Regions from separate parts of the Homo sapiens genome. Here regions 2, 3, 4, 5 and 6 are each reported to be linked to region 1. Evidence: microRNA targets listed by miRTarBase, many of them from high-throughput screens and not tested one by one. Region 1 holds a microRNA gene; each other region holds the end of a gene's coding sequence.

What was found. The annotated mature microRNA hsa-miR-7977 reads UUCCCAGCCAACGCACCA and lies in region 1 at 2,428-2,445, shown strand. An mRNA with a match to its seed (bases 2 to 7 or 8) in the 3' UTR can be bound and repressed. Matches are read on the target gene's strand: a 7mer-m8 pairs with bases 2 to 8, a 7mer-A1 pairs with bases 2 to 7 and ends in A, and an 8mer does both.
Region 2: miRTarBase lists ZNF770 as a target of hsa-miR-7977. Seed matches in the 3' UTR shown: 7mer-m8 at 1,898-1,904 and 7mer-m8 at 2,031-2,037.
Region 3: miRTarBase lists LRRC59 as a target of hsa-miR-7977. Seed matches in the 3' UTR shown: 7mer-A1 at 2,937-2,943.
Region 4: the mRNA of PSMG1 is a reported target of hsa-miR-7977. Seed matches in the 3' UTR shown: 7mer-m8 at 1,833-1,839.
Region 5: the mRNA of RBM43 is a reported target of hsa-miR-7977. Seed matches in the 3' UTR shown: 7mer-m8 at 3,433-3,439 and 7mer-m8 at 3,296-3,302.
Region 6: the mRNA of NCKAP5 is a reported target of hsa-miR-7977. Seed matches in the 3' UTR shown: 7mer-m8 at 843-849.

What each region holds. Positions count from the first base shown.
Region 1 is chr3:176,512,676-176,517,987 of GRCh38, forward strand. MIR7977 (microRNA 7977) reads left to right here and starts at 2,428; the gene lies at 2,428-2,476.
Region 2 is chr15:34,977,250-34,982,561 of GRCh38, reverse strand. ZNF770 (zinc finger protein 770) reads left to right here. Exons shown (of 3, transcript NM_014106.4): 3 at 1-4,221. The coding sequence ends at 1,203. Among named protein-coding and RNA genes, the nearest start is that of ZNF770, 8.4 kb to the left of the region's middle.
Region 3 is chr17:50,379,657-50,384,968 of GRCh38, forward strand. It overlaps LRRC59 (leucine rich repeat containing 59), which reads right to left. Exons shown (of 7, transcript NM_018509.4): 7 at 1,582-3,579. The coding sequence ends at 3,332. It overlaps EME1 (essential meiotic structure-specific endonuclease 1), which reads left to right. Exons shown (of 9, transcript NM_152463.4): 8 at 656-845; 9 at 1,107-1,827. The coding sequence ends at 1,283. Among named protein-coding and RNA genes, the nearest start is that of EME1, 9.1 kb to the left of the region's middle.
Region 4 is chr21:39,171,711-39,177,022 of GRCh38, reverse strand. It overlaps PSMG1 (proteasome assembly chaperone 1), which reads left to right. Exons shown (of 7, transcript NM_003720.4): 7 at 1,359-2,254. The coding sequence ends at 1,433. It also overlaps the pseudogene PCBP2P1. Among named protein-coding and RNA genes, the nearest start is that of PSMG1, 9.1 kb to the left of the region's middle.
Region 5 is chr2:151,247,048-151,252,359 of GRCh38, forward strand. It overlaps RBM43 (RNA binding motif protein 43), which reads right to left. Exons shown (of 4, transcript NM_198557.3): 4 at 893-4,617. The coding sequence ends at 3,859. Among named protein-coding and RNA genes, the nearest start is that of RBM43, 12 kb to the right of the region's middle.
Region 6 is chr2:132,669,844-132,673,843 of GRCh38, reverse strand. It overlaps NCKAP5 (NCK associated protein 5), which reads left to right. Exons shown (of 20, transcript NM_207363.3): 20 at 539-2,056. The coding sequence ends at 555. LYPD1 (LY6/PLAUR domain containing 1) reads left to right here and starts at 3,639. Exons shown (of 3, transcript NM_144586.7): 1 at 3,639-3,963. The coding sequence starts at 3,912. RefSeq lists an enhancer at 3,813-4,000.

The DNA.
Region 1 (5,312 bases):
TCTCTCCACCTTTCCATAAAGGCTGTGGGTTTCTCATCTGGTTTTTGGTCTATCATGGACAGTTTAGAGTAATTAAGAGGTTTAGCCCTGGTTTATCGTAGGCCCTCTAATATGCACATTTAAAAGTGCTTTCTTTTCCATTTATCTGCTGAGTTATTGAGGTTCCAATCAGGGTTGTCTACTTGAACTGCTTCTCTTCCTAGTGGGAATGGAGTTTCCATTACTTCTTCACCTTCCCTATCTCCTTTTTTTCTCTTTGGTCTGCCATAGGAGATGTTGTTCATCTTCATATTTTTCTGCTGCCTGCAGAACTGCTTGCTTTTCAGCTTCAGTGAGGCCTGACTTAGGAGCAACATAACATCCCTCCATGTGAGGTCAAACACCTGAGTTAAATTTTGGAAAATTTCTATATATTTATTGGGGTCATCAGAAAATCTGCTTAAGTCTCCCTTTAATTGCTTAAGGTCCTGTAATGAGAAGGGAACGTGAACCCTCATGGCACGATTTTCATCAGGCACTTCCTGCAGAGATAAGAATGAAGTGGGGAAAGTGGGTAATACTGGAGATGGTGGACCTGGAGGACCTGATGGTATGATTGGAGGGGCTTCTGGATGAGGGGAACTGAGTTGAGACATTCAATAGCTGTCTCAGATTGCTCCTCTGGAATCTGCTTTAGCTCTGGGGGACTATTCCTTGTGGGCTTGCCTGTCATGCTGCTAAAAGAACTGGGTCAATTGTACAAAGCTTGTAAAGGTCTGGGTCGTCTCGCAGGGCAAAGAAAGCCTGTACATTGGGTATCTCAGACCATTTGTCCTTCCATCTGCAGAAAATATCTAATTGTTGGACAGTATTAAAATGAAGGCTCCCCCCAGCAGGCCAGGTTTGTCTGTCTTAAAGATGGTAAGAAGGCCATGCCCTTATGCCATAGAATATGAGGTGCTCTTTCTACAAAGTCTCAGGGTTGAAGCAGTCCCAGTGCTTTAGAATATACTCCAGGGGAGTACATGCTGAACATGATCTGTTACCCATCTAGAAAGAGAAGTGAGAAAAAGGTGTCTCTTTTGTCTCCTTCCTCTCTCTGTATAACCCAGAGTGGAGAAGAAGACAGTGGGAGCGTCCCCCCAACTGTTTTCCTTCCTTGGTTCCTGGGTCCCAGCACCCTGTTAAATGTGCTGCCCATGGTTGTATGTGTGACCCTCCAAGCCATGGCACCAAAGAAACCAAGCAACTGGGGCTAGTCATGCTCATTCAAGTAGCTCTAGTCCTCTGCCTGTGATTTCCCTTTGACTTCCTAGACTTGTGTGACCTGTGTGCCTCCCTTAAAAAAAATTGACCTTGGGAAAGATTATATAAAAGGCAAGTGTCCTTTAATGGAGGGAATGTGCTAGATTGCCTGCTACTATGGCCCGTGTTAAAGCCTTAACCCTTAGAAAAATGGTTCTGGTTAACTTTCAGACTTAAAATCCCCTTACTAATTAAGGACTGTCTTATTGGAGACAGAATAGTTTCCTTAAAGGGATGTGGGGGCCTAATCGTGACTTTCCTGTTGATGGGACAGGATCAGGACTCAAATTTGGCTGCAGAGGACAATTTACTCCTAATTGTTGAAGGCAGAATTTTCCTGTTCACAGAAGCAGCATAAAGCCTGGTTTCCAGTAGGAAGGGGCAAAAAGGAAAAATTAGGAAGCTGCGGTGGACTGTAGCGGACAAGCAATGCGTCTTATGAAGAGGGTGTCTATTTCCACTAGGTGGCGCTGTTGGCTTAGGAATACTATGTGCCACCAGCAGCATAGTAGGGACTCATCTCACAACCGGGGTTTCAGAGACCTCTGTTCCTAGAAGATTGCAACAGCATTTTCCTGAGCTATAGCCCCGGTTATTACAGCATTTCCTGATCTTGCCTAACAGGATTACTTCCCTAGGCTGTAAAAATTCCCACACATTCGACACACAAAGAGAATAAGAGGCATAGCGACCGTGGATAGAAACAGAAAAAAAGTTTTGCGACAGGATAACTGGGGATCTTTTACCAACACCTGGGCAGGCTGCTGGAGGCTGAGTCCGGTCCAGAAGCTTTTGAATAACACTAGGAAATGCCCTGGCCAGAAATTCTCAGTTGCTTCAGAACTTTTCCCCGCCTTATGCAATGGCTAATTTTCCCCATGAACAGAAAAGCTGGTTTGAAGCACGGCCAACATTCCCAATGACCCAGGGTATTGGAGGGAGGGGGGTCTTCATGTTCTCCCCAGCAAGGCTGACATGCGAGTCTTTAAGAATGGCAGCCACACTAAGCATATCTAGATGGTTGACAGATGCTGTTATTGATTTGATTTGATTTTAAAATGGAAGCCAAGAGCCTCGGAATGAAAGGACAGGTTTTGAGTTTGCTCTTCTGCTCACCAACCCCAATGGATATTGTACCTTGGTTTCCCAGCCAACGCACCAAAAATGATATGGGTCTGTTGTCTGGAGAAACACCCAAGGTCCTTGTTCTCGCACGGAGAAAATTAGCGACACGGATACACGTGGAGTGGTTTAAGGAGTGGAATGTTTAATAGGCAAGAAAGAAGAAAACAGCTCCCTCATACAGAGGGAGGAGGGCTCCAAATGGAAAACCCCACATGTAGCAGAAAGCAGTCGGTTATATTGGGAGGCTGGACGACGTGGTGTTTGGTTTGCATAGGAGCCAGGGGATTGGTTTGACCAGGTGTGTCATTCACATAGCCTGCAAAAAAGCCAGCTCTCCCACCCTAGCCTTTAAATATGCACATATGGCTACCTGGCTGGTCACCATGATGTTCTGCATACGTGGCAACAAAGAAAAAGTCACGGGAACCACCATATTGGTTGGACCTGGCTTCTAGCCACCAGCATTTGCATATCAATGCTTGCAGGTCTGGTTTTTCAGGCCACTTTCTGTTAGAAAAGAAATGTTTTGGGGCTTGCTTTTTTATTAAAAGAAAAAGCCTTACCAAGGACTCTTTTCCCCTCTCTTGCTGCCTAAAATAATTTCTTAATAACTCCTGTAATACTAGTGATTCTTCGATCAGGAATACAACTTTTCTATAATTTGTGATTTCAAACGTGTCAAGATGGCAGTGACATCATTTTTTCCCATGTGCTTTCTGCTTCTTCGCTTAGAAAATCAGTGGCAGATTTCTCCCAGTAAAGAAGACATATTATTTTAATGTTGCCAAATATTTTATAAATTATTCCCTGACTTATGCTCAAACAGTGACTATAGTTGAAACATCATCCTGCAATGAAGCTCAAAGTATACCAGTCTTACCTATGCGTTCAGAGCTTCAAACAGTTTTTAAAATCTCCGTCTTTAAACGTGAGAAGATAAGCAAGAATTAACAGTTGAAGAAGGCTTCTTTTGTGAAAGAAAAGTACTGGGAAAACAAAACAAAACAAAACAAAAACTGGAGGAGAGAGATAATATAAAAAAGAAAATGTTTAAAGCTTATCGTTGTCTTAAAAGAAGTTTCGTTAATTAAACAAAAAGAGCTTTCTGATTTTAAAATTACTGTAGGCCAGGCATAGCAGTTCGCACCTGTAATCCCAGCAATTTGGGAGGCCTAGGCAGGTGAATTACTTAAGCTCAGGAGTTCAAGACCAACCTGGGCAATATGGCAAAACCCCATCTCTACAAAAAATACAAAAATTAGCCAAGTATGGTGGCACATGTCTGTGGTCTCAGCCACTCAGGAGGCTGAGGTGGGAGGATGGCTTGAGCCTGGCAGACAGAGGTTGCAGTGAGCCTAGATCACATCACTGCACTCCAGCCCAGGGACAGAGCGAAACCCTGTCTCAATAAATAAATAAACAAACAAACAAATAAAATTACTATGGAGCTATAGAAATCAAAATAGTGTGGTACTGACATAAAGATAGGCCTATAAATAAGGTAATGGAACTGAGAGTCCAGAAGTAAAGCCTTCTAATTGTGTCAACTTTTTCTTCAAAAAATTTGCCAGGCCAATTCAATGAGAAAGGACAGTCTTTTCCACAACTAATTTTAGGACTATTGAATATCCAACATGCAGAAAGGATAAATTTAGGCCTTTATCTCAAACTATGCACACAAATTGACTCAATATGGATCAAAGATCTAAATGTAAGAGCTAAAACTGTAAAACTTTTAGAAGAAAATGCAGGAGAAAATCTTTTTGACCTTGGCTAGTCAATAATTTCTTAAATATAACATTGAGACCACAATCCATTAAAATAAATAAACTATAGTCAAATTGGTCATCAAAATTAGAATCTTGGGTACTTCTAAAGAAATAGCTGACAGAATGAAAAGATAATCCACAGACTGGAAGAAAATATTTGCAATATGTTTCTGATAAGGCATTTACATCCAGAATATGTAAAGAACCAAATAGATGACAACAAGCTCAATAAAAACTTAAACAAAAAAATTAAATAGACAATTTACAAAAAAGAATAAAAAGACTCATCAGCACATGTAAAGACATTCAACATCATTAATTATTAGGTAAGTACCCTTTAAAACTATAGTAAGATACCAGTTCATTCGCATTTGAATAACTATAAACATAAAAGACAGACAAAAATAACAAAAGTTGGTAGGGAAATGGAGAAACTTCATATATTGCTGATGGAAATGTAAAATGATACAGGCAGTCAGAAAATAGTTTGGCAGCTTCTTAAAAACTTAAACATGAACTTACTATGTGACCTAATAGTTTCTCTCCTAAATACCTACCCAAGAGAAGTGAAAGTTATTTCCACAGAAAGACTTACATCTCAAAGTTCATAGAAGCATTCACAGGAGCCTAAATATAGAAACCATTCAAATGTTCATTAACTTATAAATGAATAAACAAAAATTGGTATATCCATTGAGTGAAATATTAGTCAACAATAAAAAAATGAACATATGTCATAATATGGATAAAATTATAAAAGCATTATACTGAGCAAAAGAAGCCAGATCAAATGATCACATATTATTAGATCCCACTTATATGAAATTTTCAGAAAAGAAAAATCTGTAGAGACAGAAAATAGGTTTGTGATTAACTAGCTCTTGGGGTGGGAATGGAGAATCATCAAAAGTAGTTGCTTCTGTGATGAGAATGATAGAGCTTAACCACTGAATGTTTTCTAAAGCTTTGAAATTCTATTTCTTTCAAATTGATATGCATGTATTATTTTGACAAAAAGTATGTAAACATAGATATCCGTTTTAAAAAGTAGAGTATGGAAATTGAAGGAATAACTTCACAGTGGAGAATTGTGGCAAACACAAACTTGGTTTGATGGTGAAGGTTAACATCATC
Region 2 (5,312 bases), not on the chromosome of region 1:
GTCCCTTTTCAATGTCCAAAGTGTGAAAAGTGTTTTGAATCAGAGCAGATTCTCAATGAACACAGCTGTTTTGCTGCTAGAAGTGGCAAAATTCCAAGCAGGTTCAAAAGAAGCTACAACTATAAAACCATTGTTAAAAAAATCTTGGCCAAGCTTAAGCGTGCTAGGAGTAAAAAATTAGATAACTTTCAATCTGAGAAAAAAGTATTTAAAAAGAGTTTCTTGAGAAATTGTGATCTTATTTCTGGTGAGCAGAGCTCTGAACAAACCCAGAGAACATTTGTGGGTTCTCTTGGCAAACATGGAACATATAAAACAATTGGCAATAGAAAGAAGAAAACATTGACTTTGCCATTTTCTTGGCAAAATATGGGAAAAAATTTGAAAGGCATCCTTACGACAGAAAACATATTAAGCATTGATAATTCAGTGAATAAGAAAGACTTGTCAATCTGTGGTTCATCAGGTGAGGAATTCTTTAATAACTGTGAGGTACTTCAGTGTGGTTTTTCAGTTCCAAGGGAAAACATACGTACTAGACATAAGATATGTCCTTGTGACAAATGTGAGAAGGTATTTCCTTCTATATCCAAACTAAAAAGACACTATTTAATTCATACTGGACAGAGGCCCTTTGGCTGTAATATTTGTGGGAAATCTTTTAGACAGTCAGCTCACTTAAAAAGACATGAACAGACTCATAATGAAAAGAGTCCTTATGCATCTCTTTGCCAAGTAGAATTTGGAAACTTCAACAATCTTTCTAATCATTCAGGTAATAATGTTAACTATAATGCTTCCCAACAATGTCAGGCTCCTGGTGTTCAAAAATACGAGGTCTCAGAGTCAGATCAAATGTCAGGAGTTAAGGCAGAGTCACAGGATTTTATTCCTGGTAGCACCGGGCAACCCTGTCTTCCTAATGTACTTTTGGAATCAGAGCAAAGCAATCCTTTTTGCAGTTATTCAGAGCATCAGGAGAAAAATGATGTCTTCCTGTACCGATGCAGTGTTTGTGCTAAAAGTTTCCGATCTCCATCTAAACTGGAAAGACACTACCTAATTCATGCAGGGCAGAAACCATTTGAATGCTCAGTTTGTGGCAAAACATTCAGACAGGCTCCTCACTGGAAGAGACATCAGCTTACTCACTTTAAAGAACGACCACAAGGGAAAGTGGTTGCCTTAGATTCGGTTATGTAAATTGTCGCAACCACTAACAATTGTGGTCTCTGGTGATCTTATTTTTAAAGCCTGTATTATTTAAAATGCATTTTTATTGAAAGGCCTGCATTAAACTGAATGGTTTCACAGGCATTTGCTTGTCCTGCATAGTAAGGAGGTAGAATACATAGAAAATTAATACAATGTTTTAGAAACAGCCAAGTTAATTTTAGAGGCAAGAACATGATTTGATGCTATAAAGTAGGCATTTTAATATTGTAAACATATACTTTGGCTGTATTGAAAAATATAAATCCATGATGGCTGTACAAATAATTTAGCCTCATTCATTTTTTAAAGGAATTATTCCTTAAGACATGCCATCTCTTTTTAGATATACTCAAAAGACTGAGAGGCAAAACTTGGCTTTTAGCTGCAGCACATAGCCCTGTTATATTTGATTTATTTTACATTTCATATGAAAGCATAATTTTGTCCACATGTGACTCAAATTGCATTGGTAATTTTTTTTTTTTTTTTGTAAGTTAAAAAAACTACAGAGACACTAAAGGTGAAAATGGATGAGACAATTATAGTATTATTTTCATTGGTCTTTTTTTTTGAGATGGAGTCTCACTCTTTCGCCAGGCTAGAGTGCAGTGGCGCCATCTAGGCTCACTGCAACCTCCGCATCCCAGATTCCAGCGATTCTCCTGCCTCAGCCTCCTGAGTAGCTGGGATTACAGGTGCCTGCCATCACGCCTGGCTAATTTTTGTATTTTTAGTAGAGACGGGGGTTCACCAAGTTGGCCAGGATGGTCTCGATCTCTTGACCTTGTGACTCACCCGCATCGGCCTCCCAAAGTGCTGGGATTACAGGCATGAGCCACCGCACCCGACGGTCTTTTCAAAGCTATTTATTTTTAGGACTATGTGGTAATTTCACCTTCAGGTGATAAGGATTTTTTTTTTCTCCCAGCTAGTGCTATCTTTCTCAAAATAATTTAAAAGTAGGCGAGAGGCTAGGATGTACCTATATTTACCATGTTTACTTACCAGGAATATTTTCTAAGTGCCATAGTCTTTTTCATAATACGTATGAGTTTTACCTTTTCAGAGGAATAATTTCAAGTCATTTATTTGCTCATTAATGATAGCAGTAGTCATAGACTTAAGACTATTCTAGAGATCTTCATCTCCATAAGACTTTTACATTTATTTTAGTAAACTTTTCTTTCTATGCCTCTTTAATGGAGTGGTTCTGTTATTTAAGCCTGTTCTAAGTTTGATCAAATGGCAATGACTAGGTCTAGTTTTAGTTTTTATTTTTGCAGGAGTCTATTGCTAAAGAATTTTATTTTGATGCTTGTTAAATTTTTATTTTAATTAATAAGGTAGTCATTCCTGTAGAGGGATAAGATGCTTGTAGAGTTGTGGGTATCATTCCAAATAGAACTGTTATGATTTGGGAAATATTCTTTACTACAAAGGACTTATTTCATAATTACAAATTTTCCTTCATATTTGCCTTTGTTTATAAAATCTTCAGGAATGACATTCTCTAGCAATAAAAGGAATGAACCGTTATGTTTCTAAGCTGAAAAGAGGAACAGGTGGGTAATTATCCTGCCATACTTAAATATAGTGGAAAATCCTCTATTGAGAATGTGGATAAATGAACAATTGTAAGTTTTGCATCATAAACTGAGAACTTTCTTTTGACAGGGGGGAGGCGGGAGGGATAGTAGGTGGGGGTGATCTGCTTGCTTCTTTTACCACAGGTGATTTTTAAGTAACTTGGGTTTAATTTACAGAGATGAAACATGACAGTCTGAGTAAAATACCCAGTGATGTAGAAGTGTGCCTGTTTATTATGTAGATACAGACATCCAGCAAAAACAGGAGAATCACATGCTTTAAAGAACACTTTCTCTTAGGTTTCCTTGAGATATGTTCCTCCAGTGCAAGCAAGATAATGGTTTACAGAATTTGCTTTACACAAAACTTGTCAAGAACTCATCTGTTAAAAGCAAGGAATAACTAGTTTATATTTTCCAATAATGTTCAAGGTTTTCTCCTTAATATGTTTGAAATTATTGATTTTGGCATTTTTCTAAGCAATTTATGTAATTTTATTTGAAGAAAATGTTTTGTATAATGTTTTTCCCAGCCTAAACAGGGAGAGTCCTAACAGTGTTGTGCTTGTATGATTCTGAGACTTTATTTGCGTAAGTGATACTACTATACTTTATTTTTGACCCATGCCTTTTTAAGCTGTTTCATATTGAAAGGTGGAATATTGTAAAAATTTTGTCAAAGATGTACTGTAGTGCTATTTGAAGTACCTGTAACAAAACAGTTGGCCCTCTGTATCCATGTACTCTGCATCTGTGGATTAAACCAATTGCAGATCAAAAATATTAGAAAAAATAAAAATAATACAAATAAAAATACAGTATAACAGTTATTTAAATAGCATTTACATTGCATTAGGTATTAGTCTAGGGATAAAGTATACAGGCGGATGTGCGTTGGTTATATACAAATATGTCATTTTATGTAAGGGACTTGAGTATACTTGGATTTTTGGTATCTGTGGGTTGGGGGGACGGTCCAGGAACCAATACCCCATGGATACCAAGGGACAACTGTACTTATTTACCTTTATTGTCATTGCAAGCTTCTTATGGAAACTTTATAGGAATGAAAATATACATGTTAAGAAGATTAAACATTAGATAGTAGATGGTTTGTTGCATGCTAGAACTGTTAGTATTGTTGAATCAATTACTTTGGTTTCATGAAAAAATAAACGATAAATATCTTTAAAGAGAACTAGAAGAATTTTTTGTTTGAGTGATTCCAGGCTGTAGTATGATCATTTACTGAAGTAGTTTGATTGGCTGGCTAACTTAGAATTATTGTTTCTTGTTTTGTACTGCAATAGGGGTTATAATTGTAAGATAAAAATGTGTGTGTGTTTAAGGGAAGTAGGTGGTGGTTAAAATTCTTGGAAAATTTTCAGAATACTTTAAAAATAAAGTTCCAAGTTACACAGTTTGGCCTTTTTTTTGGGGGGCGGGGCGGGAATTACAAAATATTGGAGCCAAGGTACTGATTGTCGGATACTTTTATAGGTCCACTCCAATCTACCTTCTACACCAAATTTACATGGATATTTGATCATTTACGCTCTTGTTCATGTTACATTTCCATGCTGTTCCCTTCTGTGGGAAAAAAAAATCCTTTGACATCTTCCTATCACCTACAAAAGAATATGTTAACTCCATTGTATGTTGTATGGTCTATGTATTTATCTGTTTATCCTCCTTTTTGGCCTTTCTCTTCAGATTTGTACTAAAGAAATACAGAATTAGGGGCCGGGCACAGTGGCTCAAGCCTGTAATCACAGCACTTTGGAAGGCCGAGGTAGGAGGATTGCTTGAAGCCAGGAGTTTGAGATAGTCAACAAAGCAAGACCACCGTCATTTAAAAAAAAATTTTTTTTTAAGCCACGTGAGGTGGTGACACACACCTGTGGTCTCAGCTGCTCTCAGAACACAGAGGCGGGAGGATCGCTTGAGCCCAAGAATTGGAAGTTGAAGTGAGCTATGATCATGTCCCTGCACTCCAGCCTTCCATGCCTGGGTGACAGAGCAAGATCATCTCTTTAAAAAACAGTATATAGAATTGGTTTCTCCAATACATACTAGTATTGTTATTCTTTTTGCTTTCCATCGTGTCTATCTTGTGTCAAATTAGAAACAGACAATCTGTTCAAAGTTTAGCTGAGTCAAGTTTCTTTTTTTTCATGATTATGGGGGAAAACAAAAGTGCTTAAAACTGACTTGCACAGAACACGGATTTCAATGTACATGTTATATAACACAACCAATTAGAATTATATTTTTAGGATGCAGCAACAGTCTTTGAAATCTTTTACAAGAATCTTTGTTAGAAATAACATTTGCCAAGTACTGTTTTATGATGCAGAATGGTGTCTGCTTTTTTGAAGCTACAGGGAAGGAACATTTAATCCCTAGCTTGTTGAGATTTCTCCTTATTGCCAGTTAGAAGGGCTTAGAATTTAAGGGCTAATTCTATTAAGGGAATTCTATTAGCAGTAAGAGAAAAAAAAGGAAAGGTAA
Region 3 (5,312 bases), not on the chromosome of region 1:
CTCTGCAGTCAGCCCATTGTCTCTCAAGCTTGAGGCAGAAGGAGCTGACCTCACACTGGGGATTCTTGGGAAGAGTCCTCAAGCCTAGCGCCTTTTCAAATATTCTCCTTTCGCCTATATGTAAGTATGTGTTCTGCAGGCTGATATCATAGGCCAGGTTACCATAGGCCAAGTTACCAGGATTAATTACAGGTCAGATCACAATGTAATAAGCACTAGGAAAGCAAATTTTTGGCCTACTCAGTTCAAGAAGTGTTCACTGTCAGAATTTAAAATAAGTAAATGACCTCAGAGACAATCCAGTCCAAGTCCCTTATTTTATACTTGAGGGGACTGAGGCCTGAAGAGATTGACTTGTCTAAGCTCCTAGCAGTTAGAAGAACCAGAAATAGATTGCAGATTGCCAGATATCCAAAGAATCTGGTATCTTTTCTTCTACTATAATGGACTAGATGTAGTTTTTAAATGAATCAGCAACTGGCCCTATACCTGGCAACAAAGTGAGCACTCAAATTGTCAAAGGCACAAAAAGGCCAGATGTAACATGGCGCCCACCTCTTCCAAGGTCAGTGGGGGGGTTTTCAGTTGCCACTTGAGGGGAACAGGTGTAGAAGAGTAATGAGCAACTTACAGCTCTCCAACCACGCTGTTGCAGGAAGCTCCGAGATGAAACTACCTTCTCCTTCTGTCTGGAGAGTGACTGGGCTGGAGGGGTGAAGGTGGACCTTGCTGGCAGGGGACTCGCACTAGTCTGGAGGAGACAGATTCAGCAGCTGAACCGAGTCAGCCTGGAAATGGCCAGTGCAGTTGTGAATGCCTATCCCTCCCCACAGCTCCTGGTACAGGTATGCTGCTCCAGGGCTCAGGGGTCACTGCCCATTGCCTGCGGGCTCAGTGGGCCCCCAGATTTCCATGGACAACTGTTGAGGGCCCACAAAGGCCTCACAGGTCAGCAGTGCAGGTCTACTAAGATCAGTGTTGCTAATGCTGACCCAGGGAGGGAGGACAGGTTCTCATGCCCCAAGCCAAGCGTAGCACCCTCCATGCTCATGGAGAAGGGATCACCATGGATGGTACCATATTAAGAGGTCATCTACCACTTCCAGGCTTATCAGCAGTGTTTTTCGGATAAAGAACGCCAGAATTTGCTCGCAGACATACAGGTGCGCCGTGGGGAAGGTGTGACATCCACTTCTCGCCGCATTGGACCAGAACTATCCAGGCGTATCTACCTTCAGATGACCACTTTACAGCCACATCTCTCTTTAGATAGTGCTGACTGATTCTAGCCCTCAGGGATGAGGATGAAAAGCTGGAAACTTCCACTTCCCCAACCTCAGAGCCTGACTGTAATGAAGAGACTGGCAGCACCTCCTGGAACACAAGCCTAGGTGAGGCCCAGTCTTTCTTGGGTCTTATTATTTGTGAAGGTCTCTCTGCCTGTCGGCTGGGGCAGAGACTGAAATACTGCCACCTACCTTTGGCATTTAATGTTCCTCTCCTGGCAAAAATTCACTGCCACAGACAAACCACCCCCACTCCTACCCAGCCAGCCCTCAAAACACAAAGGAACAAAGACAGTCCACTCAGACACTTATTTAATAACTGTAGAAATCCAAAAGAATTAGCATCAAATCTTGAAGTCGTGAGTGAAGCTGCGGGTTGGCTTGACTGGGCTCAGCCACTGAGCTGCCTCAACCGGCCAAGGAACGGGATTATGATGACTATGCGGACTTCTATATTGTCTTCATCTCATTGTGTGTATTATGTATTTAGTTTCAATAAAGCATTTGTACCAATGGCTCTGGAGCTTGGAGGAAGACTAAAGGAATGTGTAGTGATTCTGAGTAAGATGTAGACCTACGCAGCAGAGCTATGGGGGAGAAGATTAACAAAGTCCTTTCTTCCAATATCAGGATAGTCATGAGTTGCAGTCCCATCCAAAAGGTCATTAGGGCTAAAAGGCCCTCTGTGTCTCTGAACTATGAGATTCTTGCTCCCTCCGGGGGAGCCAAGGAGCTTGCAACTGGGAGTTTGCAGTGAATGAGCACCATGACACAGTCATTTCTGATCCCTCTATCCAGCTGTTGTGAAAAGATGAAGCAAAGGAGGCAAGAAAATGCTTAATTTAGCAGACAAGAGAATGGACAGTGTGATCCTTGTTTGTGCTAGCCATTGGGTGATGCACCACTTTTCAGCTCCATGATGCTACTTGTTTCCCTTCATATCCTGTTTCCATTTATGCCCTTCAGTTATGGTCTAGAATCAAACAATTCTAAACCTCAGTGTCTTATGAAGCTGACACTTCAAAACCTGCAGAAGCAGGTTGCCTTTGAGGTATTTAGTCACACCAAGTACAACTAGAGCTGTCATAGACAGTGTAGGTTTGCAGAGATCCACCTCCTTGCTTACTGGCAATTAGGGAGTTAATGCTCTAAAATTAGGCAAGGAGCCTGGACTGTTGCCATTTTATGGAAGCCACATAAGTTGGGCAGGACTCCACAGGAGCTGCCCGTGACCTGATGATAGCAAGAGATTTCTATCTCTGAGTCGTGAAATCTGTCTACCATGAAAGAGTCTATGCTTCACCTGAGGAATAATCGATTCTGGTGTGAGTTCTGGTCTCTCAGGACATTATAAAGGAGGGAAAATGATGTAAAGGGAAGAAAGAATACCAGAGTGGGAATCCAGTTTTGCCTCAAACTAGCTGGGAGACTAGGCAAGTCATGGAAGACCTCAGTTTCTCTGTCTGCAAGTGTTATATTGGACTGGATGGTCATGAAGTCCCTTTCATAGCCAGAGATTTTGTGTGGCTGCTAAAATGCTTACATCTCTGAGGTCCTAAAGAAAACAGGAATACCCCTACCTCCCAGTTTAGACTGGATTTACTGAGCGTGGTGTTCTAGTCCCCCCCAGTTCCTCCTGATCTACCCTGATTCCCAGGGAGGAATGAAAGGGTTTGTGGCATACAAAAGTATAAATGTAGTGACAGCTGACCATTTAGTAGAAACGAGCCTTGCCTTTACACAGCTTTATATAACAACTAGAAAAGGCTATGTTTTCTCTCTCCCCACCCCCAAGCCTACTCCTTTAGGCATGCAGGTAACTGCCCCCCACGCCCCCCCGCCACCTCCCATTTCTCCTCATTCCTTCAGGGAACCCTGACTAAGGAATGAAGAAGTCCTACAAAGAGGAGGTCTCATGTACCAATCTGCAGCCATTTGATGATGGCAGGTAGGTCTGATGCTAAAAAGAGGTTGTGTCCAGCAGAACCCAATTCCATAGGAATCCAAACTCCAAGGCTGGGAGGCAGCAGGTGCTGGGGACAAGCTCACTGCTGAGAGTCGGTCTGGAGGACCCACTGGAGGATCTCATGGCGGCGTAGACCCTGGACCGCATTGTCATAGATGGTGTTCACGCTGGTGCAGAGGGGCTGCTGCTGCAGCTCTGTCACCCGACAAGCAACCAGCCCTCCCGCCACACCAAATAGCAGCAGCAGCAGCAGCAGCTTCAGCACAGCCCAGGAACGAGTGTGCTTCCGGGGTGGTGGCTTGCGGGGACGGGAGCCAGACTTAGATTCTGGAGGAAAAGTAACAGTAGACAAAGCAAGTTCAGTCAGAGGAGACCTGCTCTATACTAATCTCTGCTAGTCTCCTCCGTGCAGATCTACCTACATTCCTTCCTCAAGCAAAAACTCCCCAGGCCCTGAAGAGAAAAAATGTCTCCACAGACCGAAACAGAAACAACTTTTCCCTTGGATCTGAAGGGGGTAGATTTGCAACTGGCACTCATTCTGCGTGTCTCATGTAGCTCACAGCCCTCAGGGTCCTAAGTTCTCCTTGGTAACATGGTGATCCACGCCTCTTGGGATCGCAGAGGGAGAGGCTTATCAGGAAGCATCCAGCGCTGACAGAGTACTGTCCACTTGGGGAAACACGGTCAGGATTTATCATTATTGTCATTATTATGATATAATGTGTATATAAAAAGAAAGCCCAAAAGGTAATACACCATATTGTAAGCAGTGATGATTGCTAGGAATGGGGGAGTACAGGTGGTTGCCATTTTCTGATATATGTATCTAGATAGATAGGTATCTTTTCTCAATTCTTTGCAATGAACATATGTTACATTTTTAATTAGAAAAAAATTGGTTTTGAGATTTTTAGACAAAATTTTTAAAAACTTGACTGATCATCCACAATGCCAGGAACTGCATGATCCTGCTTCCTCATTTAATCCTTATCACTACCCTGTATGATCTTCATTTTCAACAAGGAAATTAAAAACCAGTGAGATCAGGAAGGTGGAGGCCTGTGGCCCTGTCCTGGTCAAGACAAGGGTGAGTAGGGGCAGGGCCACAGGCCTCCACTCTCTGTACAGAGCTCCTTCCCTCACCTGCCTCTCCCTCAGGAGTCCCTTTTCACCCAGAGGGTATCTGATCCTCTGCAGCATGTGGAGCCACGTCACTAACGAAATTCAACCATAGTCAGGTAAAACACAAAAATGTGTTTTCTATACAATGTGGCTCCCTGAATGCAGGCCAAATGACTCCTCTAGTGTTCAAGCAGTGAGGGGTCTCACTGTTGCCCAGGCTGGTCGTAAATGATCCTCCTGCTTCAGCCTCCCAAGTAGCTGGGACCACAGGTGTGTGCCACTACACTTGGCTAATTTTTTAATTTATGTAGAGACAGAGTCTCTATGTTGCTCAGGCTGGTCTCAAACTCCTGGGCTCAAGTGATCTCTTCTCACCTTAGCCTCCCAAAGCACTGGGATTAAAGGCCTGAGCCACAGAACTTTACTGTAAGGCACTTTTAAGAGTAAACTTGCCGGGCACAGTGGCTCACACCTGTAATCCCAGCACTTGGGGAGGCCGAGGCAGGCGGATTACCTGAGGTCGGGAGTTTGAGACCAGCCCGACCAACATGCAGAAACCACATCACTACTAAAAATACAAAATTAGCTGGGCGTGGTGGCACATGCCTGTAATCCCAGCTACTTTGGAGGTTGAGGCAAGAGAATCTCTTGAACCCAGGAGACGGAGGTTGCAGTGAGCCGAGATCACGCCATTGCACTCCAGCCTGGGCAACAAGAGTGAAACTCTGTCTCAAAAAAAAAAAAAAAGGAAACTTGACCATGTGTGTGATTTTTGCATATCTCAATGATTTTAGACCCTCACCTCTAAAAAAAAGTGAGACTCTGTTCTGGGAATGCTTCAAGATACATCTGACCCAAACACCTGCACAGAAGTATGTGGGCACTGGAGAAACAAACAAGCTGGGCACTGCCTCCCTAGGAGAGTCCCCCATTCC
Region 4 (5,312 bases), not on the chromosome of region 1:
GAGAGAATTACATAATGAACCTCTTCCTTACCCTTGGTTTATACCTTTGGTCTCATTTTCTAAAAAAATTGGAACACGTACATGAAAATGTTTGCCTGTAATCTCAGGTAGTTTAGGGATTCCATTGTTTTCTCTTAAGAGACTTTTTTGGAAGTCCACAGCCTCTGGTTTAAGCATGGTTTCTTTAAAGGAAAGAGGTTGTAACAACATTGTCCCTCAGCCCGGTTTTATTCTGGAATGGCCATTAGTTTTAAGACTTTTGTGGTAAGTTGTTGGAAGTAGCTCATTTCCCAGGTCTCATAAATTAGTTTGTTACTAGATTGTCAGCTCCTTGTGGTAATGGACCACGATTTTTAATTTTGGTATCCCAAGTTTACCACATACCTGGCATGTTGAATAAAGCCATCAATAACCATTTGTTGAAGAGTACAGCTGTAAAACTCTGATTTAGTATACTGCAAGCTTATCTTGCAAATTAGCTAGAATCCAGGGTAATCTTTCTGACACATGGAGTTAATTTATTTTTAGCATCTCTTTCAAAGTATATGCTGATCGTCTTGTTTGTTTAAATAGCCAATTGCCTCATCCCACTTAACTCAGAGATGAGTTCCCATGGGCAGGGGCTGGGCTGTTTTGTTTACTGCTGTAGGACTGTGTGTAGCACACAGGTGTGTCATAAACGCTTGGACTTGTTCAGAGACTTGGAAATCATCTGTCATATGGGGCTTAAGGAAACTCAGCTTTTATGAATATACTTTCAAGGGGAAATTTAACTCAGCATTTTCATTTTTGCTTTGGAGATAATGATTAGCAGGAGGGTAAGATGGTGGTTCTGCAGGGTGCTGTTTTCTTAATGACCAATTACATCAGCCTGAGTCAGTTCGTTGTTTCTGACCTTTTAAAAGTGGTATTTTCAATAAGGTGGAATTATTTTGAGTTCTTCCTGTGTGGCAGTTTAGTTGGATTTGAAAGATGGATGAATCTTGGGTAGAAGTGTGCAGAGGGAAGCAGTGTGAGCAGAGTGGGAAAGTGTGAGGAGAGCCGTGAGGAGTGTGGTGTTGGTGGAGAGGGGAGGAAGACATCTTGTGGGGAAGGTCGGGCGGGTTAGAGCATAGACTTCCTCCAGAGGCCAGGAGACCATCGGAGGCCAGGAGATCATCGGCGAGTGTGGCAGGGAAAGGGCCTGTTGAACTGACTTTCCCACTTGCCTTTTCGTTGAGAAGGAGAGTAAAGGCCACGCCTGTCCCATGGCTGTTTTTAAGTCTCGAGTGTGGAGATTGTTGGTCGTGGAGGGAGGGGTGTTGCCTCTGCCTGAATCCCTGGGGTCTCACTGTATTCACTTTTTTCTCTCCTTTCAGAATATTCCCCAAAGCACTGAGATACTAAAGAAATTGATGACAACAAATGAGATTCAGAGTAACATTTATACATGATCTTAAACATTGTTTTGTAGTGTATATTACTTGTCCATTCCTTTAAGGGGAGCAGCCTGCACTCTTTTGTAGATTACTTTTGGGGGATATATTTTGAGAATGATGAAACGGAATAAAATTGTAAAAAATTAATTGTAGTTTTAATTCCTTATTTATGGTGGTATTATTCACAACCAAAATAAGCCAAGCATTTTCCTTTTATCCACTAGGTGGGAGTATTGTTGTATTTGAATATTTTAAGGTACTATAGTTAAATTTTTATCTTATTTATTTATTTATTTATTTTTTGAGGCTGGGTCTTGCTCTGTTGCCCAGGCTGAAGTGCAGTGTGCTATCATGGTTCACTGCATCCTCGACCTCCTGGGCTCAAGCATTTCCCCCGCCTCGGCCTCCCAAAATGCTGGGATTACAGGTGTGAGCCACTGTGCCCAACTTTAGTTAAATTTTTCAAAGCTACAGATATCAGCAGATGGTATTCATGTGGCAAAGTGTAGTTAATTAGGTGTAACTATTCATTGACCTGTTGGTGATTCTTAATATGTGGAAAGTTTCTGGATATTTTAGGAGTCCTGCAGTTTTTTTTATCTTGTGGGTAAAAATTGATGACAAAGTAACAAAATTATATATTTACTAAAAATGAAACAGAAATGTGTATGTCCTCACTTTTTAGTAATATCTGACAGATAGCCTCTTCACCCAGACTTTCCCAGGGCTCTCTTTCAAGGCTGGCTCTGCGCGTGTCAGCAGTTCTCTTACAGTCATGTGTTATCATTAGGAGTGTGAATGGAATCATGAACCCGGAGTAGCCACACAACTTCACAGGACCACAAACTGAACTGCATTCATGAAAATAAATTTTAAAATGGTGGAGTTAAATGCTTCTTATCTCTTCTGCTTTCTTTTTCACCTTTTTAGTTATTGAATCATTTACATACTATAGATTTAGAGTACTTACCCATTTATATTTTCTAGTTCCAGTTCATTTACTGTTTTTGGTAATGATTAGAAGTATGGTAAGGAGATACTGTGTTCTAACTCCTTCTTGAGTAAACTTGGTTTCCTTTACATAATCAAGAATTGGAAGTCTTGTGCATAGTATGCTTATGAATATATCCCGAAGGCAGAAATCTAAGCATTTCCCTTGTTGCAAAAAAAGTTTTCATTCATTCAGAAATGTGCCTGCAGAGCCCTGAGGTAACATCATATGACCTGGAATCTGGTCCTAGCTGGAGCTAATCCTCTTCTTGTGCTGAGGGTCAGTGTGGTAAGTAAGGAAGAGTGATCTTGGAAAAGCAGACTATGTTCAATCCCAGGCCAGCCCTTACAGGCCAGGTGACTTTGGGCAGATGCCTTGAAGCTTCCTGAGCAACAGTTTTCTCAGCTGTAAACTACAGATAATACTGGTGACAGTACTCCCTGGGTGGTTATCTACTTCCCTTGGGGTCCAGGTTTTCATCTGCTTAATGAAGGAAATTCTCTGCTTGCTTTGCTGAATTGTGAGAATAATGATATAAGAATGCTTTTGAAGAACTGTAAGGTGGTATTTCCATGTTGACACACCTTTGTGTGCCCCACCTCAAAGATGCTGACGGTGATGTGGTAAGAAAGGAGTGGGGAGCTGCTCTGGGGGCAGCTGGAGCTGTCAGTCTTCATTCCTTCTTGTACTTCCTCTTGCTAACTTGAGAACCACAGAGCTTGGCAGTGTCAAATGGCTAAGAGTGGAAGTAGTTGGGGGACAAGTTTTGCATCGGCAGTAATCCTGGGAGAACCCTAGAAGCAGATAACTCTGGGCATTGTAGTTTTTAATAATTTTGGTAAGGAAAGAATCATAATTGCTTCAGACTGTCCAGGAGTAAACCTCTTCTTGTGATAAGAAGCAGGCAGCAGGTGCAGGAGGTTGGCTGTCAGTGCAGCAGAGCCACGTTAGGGCCAGATACCAAGCCAGGCACAGCGGTGCTTATCCGTAGTCCCAGCTACCTGGGATGCTGGGGCAGGAGGATCGCTTGAGCCCAGGAGTTCGAGTCTAGCCGGAGCAGACATCAGGCCTGGGTAGGTTTCCCATTCAAAGGAGAGTAGCTGAAGAAAACAAGCAATACGAAGGATAGAAACAGCATTAAAAATGCAGAAGAAGAGCATTCTGTTGAAAAACATGACTGTAGGAAACAGCTATTTTTTAAAAGTCAGGAACCCCTGCTTTTTCCAAAAGCAAATAATGAGATGTATGAGAAGCAGCAGCTAGCTGAAAGGAAATTTAAAAAATTTCATGGAAAAGATTTTAACAGAAGCAAAACTTCAACTTTAAAATCTGTATTATATAAAATAACAACAAATAGTATGTGATCTAAGTTGTATATATATTACATATATATAAAATAGGGTATAATACAAAGCCATTATGTGGAGGACTAACTTGAGTTGGTGTCCTAAGATGCAGGACAGAAATAGAGAAGTAACAGATGACACAGACAAGACAGTATATGCCCAGTATATTAGAGCAGTCCAGAGAGAACCAGTAGGATGTGTATAGTCATGCACCACATAAGGACATACCACTGGCGGACCGCATGTAGACAGGGGTCCATAAGATCGTATGGAACTGAAAAATTCCTATCGCCTAGGCTGTGGTAGCCATCCTAAGGTCAGACCTCATGTGTTACTTGTGTTTGTGGTGTTGCTGGTGAAAACACGCCTACTGTGCTGCCAGTTTAAAGGTCCAGCACATACAACTATGAACAGTACATAATACTTACAATAAATGACTATGCTACTGGTTTATGTACATCCTATTTTTTGCTATTTTAGAGTGTATTCCTTCTACTCGTAACAAAAAAGCGAACTGTAAAACAGTCTCAGGCAGGCCCTTCCAGAGGTATCCAGAAGCAGACATTGTCATCACAGGAGATGACAGTTCCATGTGTGTTACTGTCCCTGAAGACCTTCTAGCGGGACAAGATATGGAGGCGGAAGACAGTGAGATATTGATGATTCTGACCCTGTGTAGGCCTAGGCTAATGTGTGTGCTGTGTCTCAGTTTTTAACAAAAAGCAAAAAACAAAACTTTTGAATGGAAAAAAGCTTATGGAATAAGGATATAAAGAAAAAATATTTCTGTACAGCTGTACAGTGTATTTGTGTTTTAAGCTAAGTTATTAGAAAAGAGTCAAAAAGTTAAAAAAATAAAAGTTTAGAAAGCAGAAAAGTTACAGGAAGCTGAGATTGACACCAGCAGAGGCAGCAGCCTGAGCAGCTACAGGCTGTGCTCTCTCCCACCTGCCCTGAGGTCTCTCCCTTCTTTCTCTTCCTCCACCACCTTTTCTCCTCCTTCTCGTTGCCTTTCTGCCCACCCCTGTTGTTCCACCCCTGCCCCACCCTGCCTGCTCTCCTTTTTCCCTGAGTTGCCTCCTGCCTGGAGTTCTTGGTTTTCATCCCCACTGGCCAAAGACTTGACCACTCCAAGTCCAGCTCCCCATAGCCCTGCTTGATATGGACACTGGTATGATTGAAATTGGATTAAATGTCATTCTCACCACCTGGCTACTTATGCATGGAAAGGAAGTTGGCAGTATCATCAGAAAGAGGAGAATCAGTTAAGATGCATGAGGAGAGTGGTGCATGTATCAGCATCTCAGAAGGGAGTTGTTCTGAGAGAATTATCATCTTGGCTGGACCCACTAGCGCCATCTTCAAAGCAAGATTGGAAGAGGATATCAGTAGCTCTGTGACCACTAGCACAGCTGCCAGTGGACCCCCTGGTCACCCTGATGCTGGTGGTCCCTGCTAGTCACTGTGGCTCATTGGAAAAGGTGGTTGCAAGATCAAGGCAATACGAGAGAGTACAGGGCTCAGGTCCAGGTGGCAGGGGATATGCTCCCCAACGCT
Region 5 (5,312 bases), not on the chromosome of region 1:
CTCGGTCTCAAAAAATAAAAATAAAAAATAAAATTTTTAACAACCAATTATTTTATCTTAGGATAAAAATTTACCATATAATTTTTAATACATCAATTGTATTTTCCTAAATTTATATTTTGATTAATAGACCGAAATACTTTTAGTCCTTTTATAAAACCTAAGAAGCCAAGAACAAATGTCTATGTATTTAGCAATTTTTTTTTAATTTGGATATGATCCAGACATTTAATGAGTATCATTTAACATAATTTTAAGATTTTAAAATTACATGAAAAGCTCATTTATAAATGTTTATTTCATTTATAAGATTTATTTCTCAATTATTCCTAGATTTATGAAAATTGAGATAGAACTAGTCATTGTTTTTATTAATCAGTTTTATAGACTGTTACCATGAAGTATTTATCTTGATATTAAGGTTTAAGTAAGAACCTTAAAGTTAAAAACAGCCACCCTGTTGCTAACTCAGAAAAGTTACAGCTATTTTTATTAAAACAACAATATAATCATATTTATTTAAAAACTATATAAACAAAGATCATTTTGTTTTAGGCTTTATGACTTTAAAACATCTAGCAGAGGCAAATATAAAACTGTCTGACCAGTAAACCCAGACAAAAATGTCTGCTGACAATTTTGAAGACATTTCTAATTTTATTTTATCCACAATTTTAAAACCAATTAATTTATCAAAGATTTACTTAAGTCACATCAACTAAAAAAAACTGGGGGTTAATTACTATACATTTTATATGAGTGCTCATTTATTTAAACCAATCAGAATAAAATTTGTTAAGGGATTTCTGGCTGACTACACCAGCTTTTATGTAGATACAACATTCAACATAATATATGTACATACACATAAACACATTTAAACACATATACATAAAGATATTAAAACTTTTATTTTAGAATTTTAGTCATGATATAGTAAAACACGTAAATTCACCAGTTTATAAAAATGATTAGATGCAAATTATTTTTCTGACAAAATGGGCTAAGGATAAGCTTTAAGCTTTTTTAATAGGCAATCTTATAAAGGCTGTAAATCAAATTTGGGATAAAGCAGTTTGAGTCACTCACCAGTGCACTAAATTGAACAAAAAATAGTTAACTGTGAAAGTGTGCTGAATTATGTGAGTAGGACCAAAAGACAAGAGTGATTTTTAACAAGGTTTATACAGTATTTTCTTGGACTCAATTCTTTGTCATTGAAGATAAAAATGCTGCTATTCTTTTTTGTATAGGGAGGAAGGTTTTACATGGGAATTTAATCTTTGCTTTAAAAAAAAAACAGTAGGAAGGTCAAAATGACTTTGTTTTATATCTGCTGGTTTTCAAGTGTTTTTATTTAAGTAGTATGTTAGAATAGCTGTTTAGAGAAGGATAAAGAGGGGATACTGTAAGAAGGGGAGGGGAAAGGTCTAGAAAAGAAAGTTTCAGCCACCTTTGAGACAGTATTTTTTAACAAGGCAATATTTGTATCCTGAATGTGTTTTGTTTTTGTTTTTATTTTTTTTTAGCCTCAAGATATCAATGAAATATGCATATCTTATTTGGAGTGTATGATTTTATAGCCTCCATCTTTTAGTTCAGTTTTAAGAAAAACAGACTAAATGATCCCTGTAATGTTTGAATATGTTACTAGCTGGAGTTCCAGAAAATATTCTGGCATGCCTTTGAACTTTGAGAGCTCATTTCGTGGGTGCTCTGATTTAATGTCAACTATGCAAAAGCCAAGTAAATGCAAGCACTGAATACACAAAGGCCAAATAAATACAAGACAGGACAGAAAATAAAATACATGCTTACCAGTAAGAATGATAAGCCTTCTCCAAAGAAAGGGAAAAATTCCCTCATCCAAGCCTCAAGGTCCAAACCTCGCAGCTGAGGTCAACAGGGGGAAAATAATTCTACCCAACAGATCTACCAAACAAGAGGGGGAAAGACCTCTCCCTAATCATATCCCAAATAAAACAGAACTCGAACCATATCTGAGAGTTCTGTCCAAGAGATACTTACTGGAGGGAGAAAGGATTACCTGTGAAAGTGGTGGGGGTGTAGGGGGTTCAAAGGGCCCCAACATGGGTACCTCATGCCATAACTCCAAAGGCCAATGATTCTCCATGAGGTGAGTCAGCTTTGTATCCCACTTCTGACACCATGCATGTCAAAGTCAAAATGAAAATGTAGACACAAAACTAAATTTAATGTTTTGAGAAGAAAGAATTTCAATTCTAGGTGATCTTTAGTATGTCCAACAAACAAAGAGAAGGTTGAGGGTTTTATTTAAAACTAAGAATGTTACTTGTGGTCTTTCTTTTTTTTTTTTTTTTTTTTTTGAGACGGAGTCTCGCTCTGTCACCCAGGCTGGAGTGCAGTAGTGCAGTCTTGGCTCACTGCAAGCTCCACCTCCCGGGTTCACGCCATTCTCCTGCCTCAGCCTCTAGCCTCCCGAGTAGGTGGGACTACAGGCGCCCACCACCATGCCCGGCTAATTTTTGTATTTTTAGTAGAGATGGGGTTTTACCATGTTAGCCAGGATGGTCTCAATCTCCTGACCTTGTGATCCACCCGCCTCGGCCTCCCAAAGTGCTGGGATTACAGGTATGAGTCACCACGCCCGGCCAACTTGTGATCTTAAGAGAAAGTTCATTGGTATTAGTAAAGCCCTGGGGAGCTGGCAAGCTCCAACTGGTGGGCAATGGCCATAGGTAAAATTAGTCCTAGAGTTACAGCAAGTTATCTCAGCAGCTATAGACAAAACTGGTCTCAGGTTACAGCAAGCAGTTTCAGTAGCCAGGCTCACAGAGAATTACATTCTTGGAGCAATATTATGTGTCCCAAGTACTTTTTCCCCCTAGCTTCTTGAGTCTGTTTTAGTTGGATGTGACAAGAATGACTCAATTAATATTATCAACTTGCACAATTATAAAAGAATCACCATTTTATGTAAGCACTTAGGCTAAAAAAATAGTAAAAACATCCTATGTGGCCAGCAGCCTTGAAACAATAGAATTTAGTCAAATAATGATTACCTGCATAAGATATGCTTTCCATCTAAGTAGTTTCCCCAGTGATTTTTGCCAGTATTCTAATTCTACACGGAGTAAACACAAACTGTAAATGTTAAGAAATTGCCCATGGCATAATAATCACCTTTCAAATTTCTCATATGTTAAGGCTACTTCTTAATAATTATTATTCTCTAATAATTTGGAGTTACAGAGAAAGTAAGATTCCTTCAAAGTTTGGTGAGTTTGCTGGGCGCAGTGGCTCACGCCTGTAATCCCAGCACTTTGGGAGGCCGAGGCGGGTGGATCACAAGGTCAGGAGATGGAGACCATCCTGACTAACACGGTGAAACCCCATCTCTACTAAAAAAATACAAAAAGATTAGCCGGGCGTGGTGGTGGGCACCTGTAGTCCCAGCTACTCCAGAGGTTGAGGCAGGAGAATGGTGTGAACCCAGGAGGTGGACGTTGCAGTGAGCCGAGATCACGCCACTGCACTCCAGCCTGGACAACAGAGCGAGACTCCATCTCAAAAAAAAAAAAAAAAAAGTTTGGTGAGTTTTTTTCAAAGTTTTATTCCTTAGATATTATCTGTGTAATCAGATAGACTGGGCTAAGCCACAGCCTCATTCTTTGTCAACTGGATAACTTCAGAAAAGTGTTTTAACTTCTCCAAATCCTAGTTTCTTCCGCTGTAACATGAGGATAGTCAACACTGACAAAGAAGGATGACTATAAGGATTCATGAGATACGGTGTGTAAAGCTAGCCTCATTCATGGCAATGGTCACTGCTCAGCAAGAGAAAGCAGCCCTTATGACTATATTGCTGAGATTTTATTAACTAACCTTTTGCCCTATTAATTTCATGACCCCTTTTTTAAACAGGTAAGTGTCAGAAGAAGATCCTATAATGTCAATGTGTGTCCTATAAAGGTTAATCAGGACTTCAAGGTATCTCGAACTTAATTGTTCACATGCCCTTTTGATCATTCTTTTCTCTCTATTTTCCTTTCCTTCCAAAATAAATGTCTCTTTTCTAAGCTTTAAGTAAAGAGCATGTGACCATTCCTCAATGAGCTCTTTTACATGTTTTGCATTGTTTGGCTGAGAACCAACTTGAATGCTTTTTAGACAAATTGTGGTGATTTCACCATCCACTTTCTCCTGACTCAGAATGTGGAATTTTTTCAGTGTGCTTTCATAAGATCCACACTTGTGTTTCAGGTAAAGAAAAACATCTGTGTCAAGCACAAGCATTTCTCCACTTCTAGCAGTCTCAGGTACTAAGGTCCTGACTGATGCCAAAGAGTTATTACTTCTCTGTAGATTCCTCTGGGGATTTTGTCTATTCCACTTTCTCTCCTCACTGGTAAAATTTCTGTCTTTTTCTAAGAGAGAACATGCTCTTGCTAGCAAAGATTCTCTGAGCCTCTTGACAGCCAGAAATGATCCTTCCACGGAGATTCTTCCATTGGGTTTCAAAGGACTGAAGCTTAAACTCGGGATTTTTTTTTTCAGGTCTTTTACCAGAGTTTCTAGAGTAACTTCTTTTCCAAAAACAGAAAGATCAAGGATGGCATTTACAGAGCTGAAGATCTGAAATTAAAAAGAGAGAAATGAAAACAGTACTGCCTAGTGGGAAAGACTACATAAACATGTTCTTTTCTGCCACTTTCTTTTCTCTGCAGAAATTGCAATAAACCAGGCCCCAGTTGCCTGCCCCAGACTTCCTGACTTCTTGCACCAGGGCAGCCCATCAAAGTTATCCCATTTTGTTCAATTTGGGATTCACACTCCCTCACCACATACCCCAAAACAGACAGGCTCAAATAATTTTTAGAGGCAGAATTCTTTTTTGAAACAGTTTTATGCAGAACCAATACATACAAACTGTTCTGGTTCTGCTTGGATAGGGTTCCCCCAGGAGTCATTCCTGCCCCCAGTCAAGTTCATCAGATGGCTGCATACAACTCTGAGTGTCTTACAGAATCAAGTTGGTAAACCATTGCTTTGGATTTTAACTTTTTCCTCTTTTTCTTACTTTCTGTCTCTTCAAAGCTTCTTTTTAATGTTCATTCTAATTGTTTTTTCCCAAAATAAGCCTTTAGGTTGGTACCTGGCATCATCCATGACAGTATAAGCGTTTACCATCACTTTAAAAGCATTAAGTGAGGCTGGGCGTGGTGGCTCACCCCTGTAATCCCAGCACTTTGGGGGGCTGAGGTGGGAGGACTGCTTGAGTCCAGGAGTTTGAGACCAGCTTGGGCAACATAGGGACACCCTGTCTCTAC
Region 6 (4,000 bases), not on the chromosome of region 1:
AACCTGGAGATCTCTTTCAAATATCTTAAGTCCTATAAAGGGACAAAATACTAAAATGGCAATGCTTCTAACAAGCTTAACATGTATTCAAAAATGGCAAGTTAGGGGATTTTTATGTCTTTTTTTTATTAGAAAAAAACATATTACCATAACTTCTGGCTGAAATTCAATACCTACTCATATTTAGAAAAAGTACAGCTAATACTTAGCAAGGAAAGAGAGGAGTTTGAAACTTTGATGAAGAAAAATAAGGCACTTTACCTGAACAAATTTCAAATGGATCCATTTAAAATGAAATTAAGTGGCACTTAATTTGCAAATTGGGACCTATTTATCTCAGTAAAATGATTAAAGTCCTGATTTATCCCTAAAATTGGCTTTATTATTACATCTAATTATACTAGAAGATTATTAAAGACTTGTAGGTTTTCTCTGTCCCTTTAAACTGTACTTTATACAGACAATAATTGAATATTAGATAGGATAACTTGATTTTCCAAAGAAATATGTTTCTAATATTTTCTTCTTTTTATTGCAGAAATTGAGACAACTTGAAGAAACAAAAGACGATCCCGAGAATAGATTATCGAAAATTTCCCTAGAGTCATTCAATAAATTTAACAGCAATACTGTGATTTTATTAGAAAAAGAGAAGAACTCTCTGAACAAGGTTGAAGGACAGAAGGAAGAAAAAGAAAAAAATGAAGAGACATCTTTGAGTAGTTCAGATAGGCCTGGGGTAGACAACTTGGAATCTTTGAGTGATTCTTTATATGATAGCTTCTCTTCCTGTGCCAGTCAAGGTTCAAATGATGTATAAAGGACATCTCTTCCCTTAGTGAGCTGGGACTGGAGCGCTTAAGAAATGATGGGTGGGGGGTGGGGGGTGCACCGCTTGATAGAGATAACAATAAACTATTGCAGTACCAGAGCCTTCCTTGTCAAATTCACAGCAGGCAACCCACCAGAGCTTATTTCTCTGACAGGGCAATAAAGATAGACTCCATTTATTGTGTTTCAAGAGGATTAAGCGTAAACACATCTATGATACAGAATCCTTAATTTTGCACTTTTTTTGAATATTTGTACAGAAGTTGTAAATTTTTTGGAAGAGAAATTATATTTGTAGCAAAAAAAGACAGCAATAAATGGAATCAGTGCCATGCTCTTGAAATAATGTACTAAGTCTTAGAAGTTGATGATAATATATATTTTTTAAAATCCCAACTGAAGTTTTTGTGAAGTTCGTTGTCCTGGTCCTCAAATTGTTTGTGGGTACACTCTGTAAACCTACAACAGGGCCTGCCAAAAAATCGGAGGGTTCCTCCTCATCTCCATCTCACAAATCTCAATTTGATGGAAATGTTCATTTTAGTGTAATTTCAGATTCGTTGCCAGAGATTCAGGTGATAGTAATAAGTGTCATTCTGCTTCTGCTGAAAAATGAAAAGGGTCCTGAAGTGTGGACACTGATTGGGAGTGTGACATTGTATCAGAAATGACCGAATTCTATTCCCAATACCAGTTTTTCCTTCCAGACATTTCTTTAGATTGTCTTTTACTTAGTGCTTCTCTATGATCCTGAATATTATTTGATTTTTATCTTCTTGCTCTTTTTATTAAAATCTGGGCACTCTAAAAATGAAAACAAATTTCTATTTGCAATGTTCACTTTTAAAAATAAAATTAATGGTGCTACGAAGAATTCTTTTTAATATCCTTTTTTTTCTACAAAGACTGTTTATATGTAAGGATAAATTCTATTTTAAAGGTTATGTGTATTTTTTCTAGATGTGAACTATTTATAATTACTTATGTACAGGAGCTTGTAAACTAGGCCCAATAGAAATATTTTTAGGATCTATATGGCTACTTTAGCACATAATTGTTTCTTTAAAGAGTATTGTATGATCAGTGTTATTTGGTTAATTTGTGCAATTTGTTTTATTTTATCTTAAATGAAAATTATGTAAAATGTCCTTGTCTTTCAGACTTTAAAAAATCTTTTTGTTTCCTTTCTGAATAAAAGTTATATCACATTTGCACCCTCTGAAAACAGAAAATAACTTGCTCAAGGACCTTTTGGCCCAGTCAGTTACTTGAATCATGACTCACACGTGCTCTTACAATGGGTTCCCAGAAGGAATAAATAAATTGGCCCTTTTGCTCCAGAGATAGTAATTTAGCCAATTGTAAGATCAGAGTCTGCAGACAGGTGAGTAATGGTCAAAGCATTTCAGTCTCCCCGAGGGGTTAACCAAATAGAAATGAAAGAAGGGGGAGAGGGAGGGAGGGAGGGAGAGAAGGAGCCTGAGGCAGATATGGAACGATCTCTGCAGAGGAATTACAAAGAAAGTCATTTAAGCCCCTTTACAGACCAGCTCTGCTGGGAGGATGCAGAAATAAATGATCAGCGTCCCGGCGTGAGAGAGCTGCCCCCAGAAGTGGCCGGGGGAGAAAAGGGTGAAGAGGAGCTAAAGCTTAGGAGGCGATTTCCACGGAAATGGATGCTCCCTAAGGATGTGCGGAAAGGGGATGGGAATGTGCGGATTGGGGGCGGGGGCACCAACGCACTCCGGCGGGCAAGCGGTCTCCCGCACCACCTGCTGCAAGGCTCGGGAAGGAAGGCGAAGATAGCACCGGGGCATCCCCGGGAGTCCGCAAGGTGGGTCACTTGGACTTTGCGGAAAGAAGACGAATTTGAGGGGTGTGGGGAGCAGCCAGAGGCCGAGTCCGAGGCTGGGATGGCCTTTCAGGAGAGGACGTGGGAGTATGTGCTAATAATCGGTGGCTTTGGGGAAAGCAGAATGGAGCCGGCTGGCGTTTGGGAGACAAGGAATGGAGGAGAACAACCCTCTTCCTCACCCTGATTTGCTTTCTGGTAGGACCTCACGGCAGGTGTCCCCGGGACGGCGTTCTCCTAGGCTAGGCGACCAGGGCGGTGTCAATGCACCCTCCAGCGGTGCGCGCAGGCGGGAGAAGGGAGGGCGGCCCGGGCAAGTGAGACAGTTAAGGCAGTGTCCCCACCACACCCCCACCCAGATTGGCCACGCCGAGCTGGTTCTTGACAGAAGGCCTTCGCGGAGGAAGAGGGGGCACAGCTGCACAGGACACCCTACGGAGCCTGCGGGCGTGGAACTTTGCCAGGCGCACGGGAACGCGCGCCCTTCCTGTCAGCCTCCCGGGGCGCCAGGCTCCCGCGGCCCGCAGCGGGACAGCCTCAGTTGTGTGGGCTGGACCCAGTCGCTGGGGTACCGACCAGTCCTGGAAGGCGCAGAGGACGTGGAGTGGGGAGGCTGCCTTCCTATGTGCGAAGGGCCAGCCGGGCACGCAGTCCTCAGACCCTAGTCCGCACCCGGCAGGTCCCCACGGCACCTGCTGCGCCCTCCTCGCCGCTCCCCCAACCTCCCCATCTCAGAAAACTACCAGTTCTCTCCCGCCCCCCGGCGCCCCTTTCCCAGGAACGTGCGGAGGCGGGAGAAGAGGAAGACAGGAAGGGGGTGGGGATGTGAAGCGACCGTCCCAGCCTTCCCCGCCCGCCACCCCCACCCCAACTCGGCAGCCGTCACGTGATGCCTGGAGTGGGAGGTGGGGAGAAAAGGCGAGACTTTTGTGGGTGCTCCCGATCGCCAGTAGTTCCTTCAGTCTCAGCCGCCAACTCCGGAGGCGCGGTGCTCGGCCCGGGAGCGCGAGCGGGAGGAGCAGAGACCCGCAGCCGGGAGCCCGAGCGCGGGCGATGCAGGCTCCGCGAGCGGCACCTGCGGCTCCTCTAAGCTACGACCGTCGTCTCCGCGGCAGCAGCGCGGGCCCCAGCAGCCTCGGCAGCCACAGCCGCTGCAGCCGGGGCAGCCTCCGCTGCTGTCGCCTCCTCTGATGCGCTTGCCCTCTCCCGGCCCCGGGACTCCGGGAGAATGTGGGTCCTAGGCATCGCGGCAACTTTTTGCGGATTGTTCTTGCTTCCAGGTGAGAATACCCAGAGGCCAGCAGCCGAGGCCAGGTG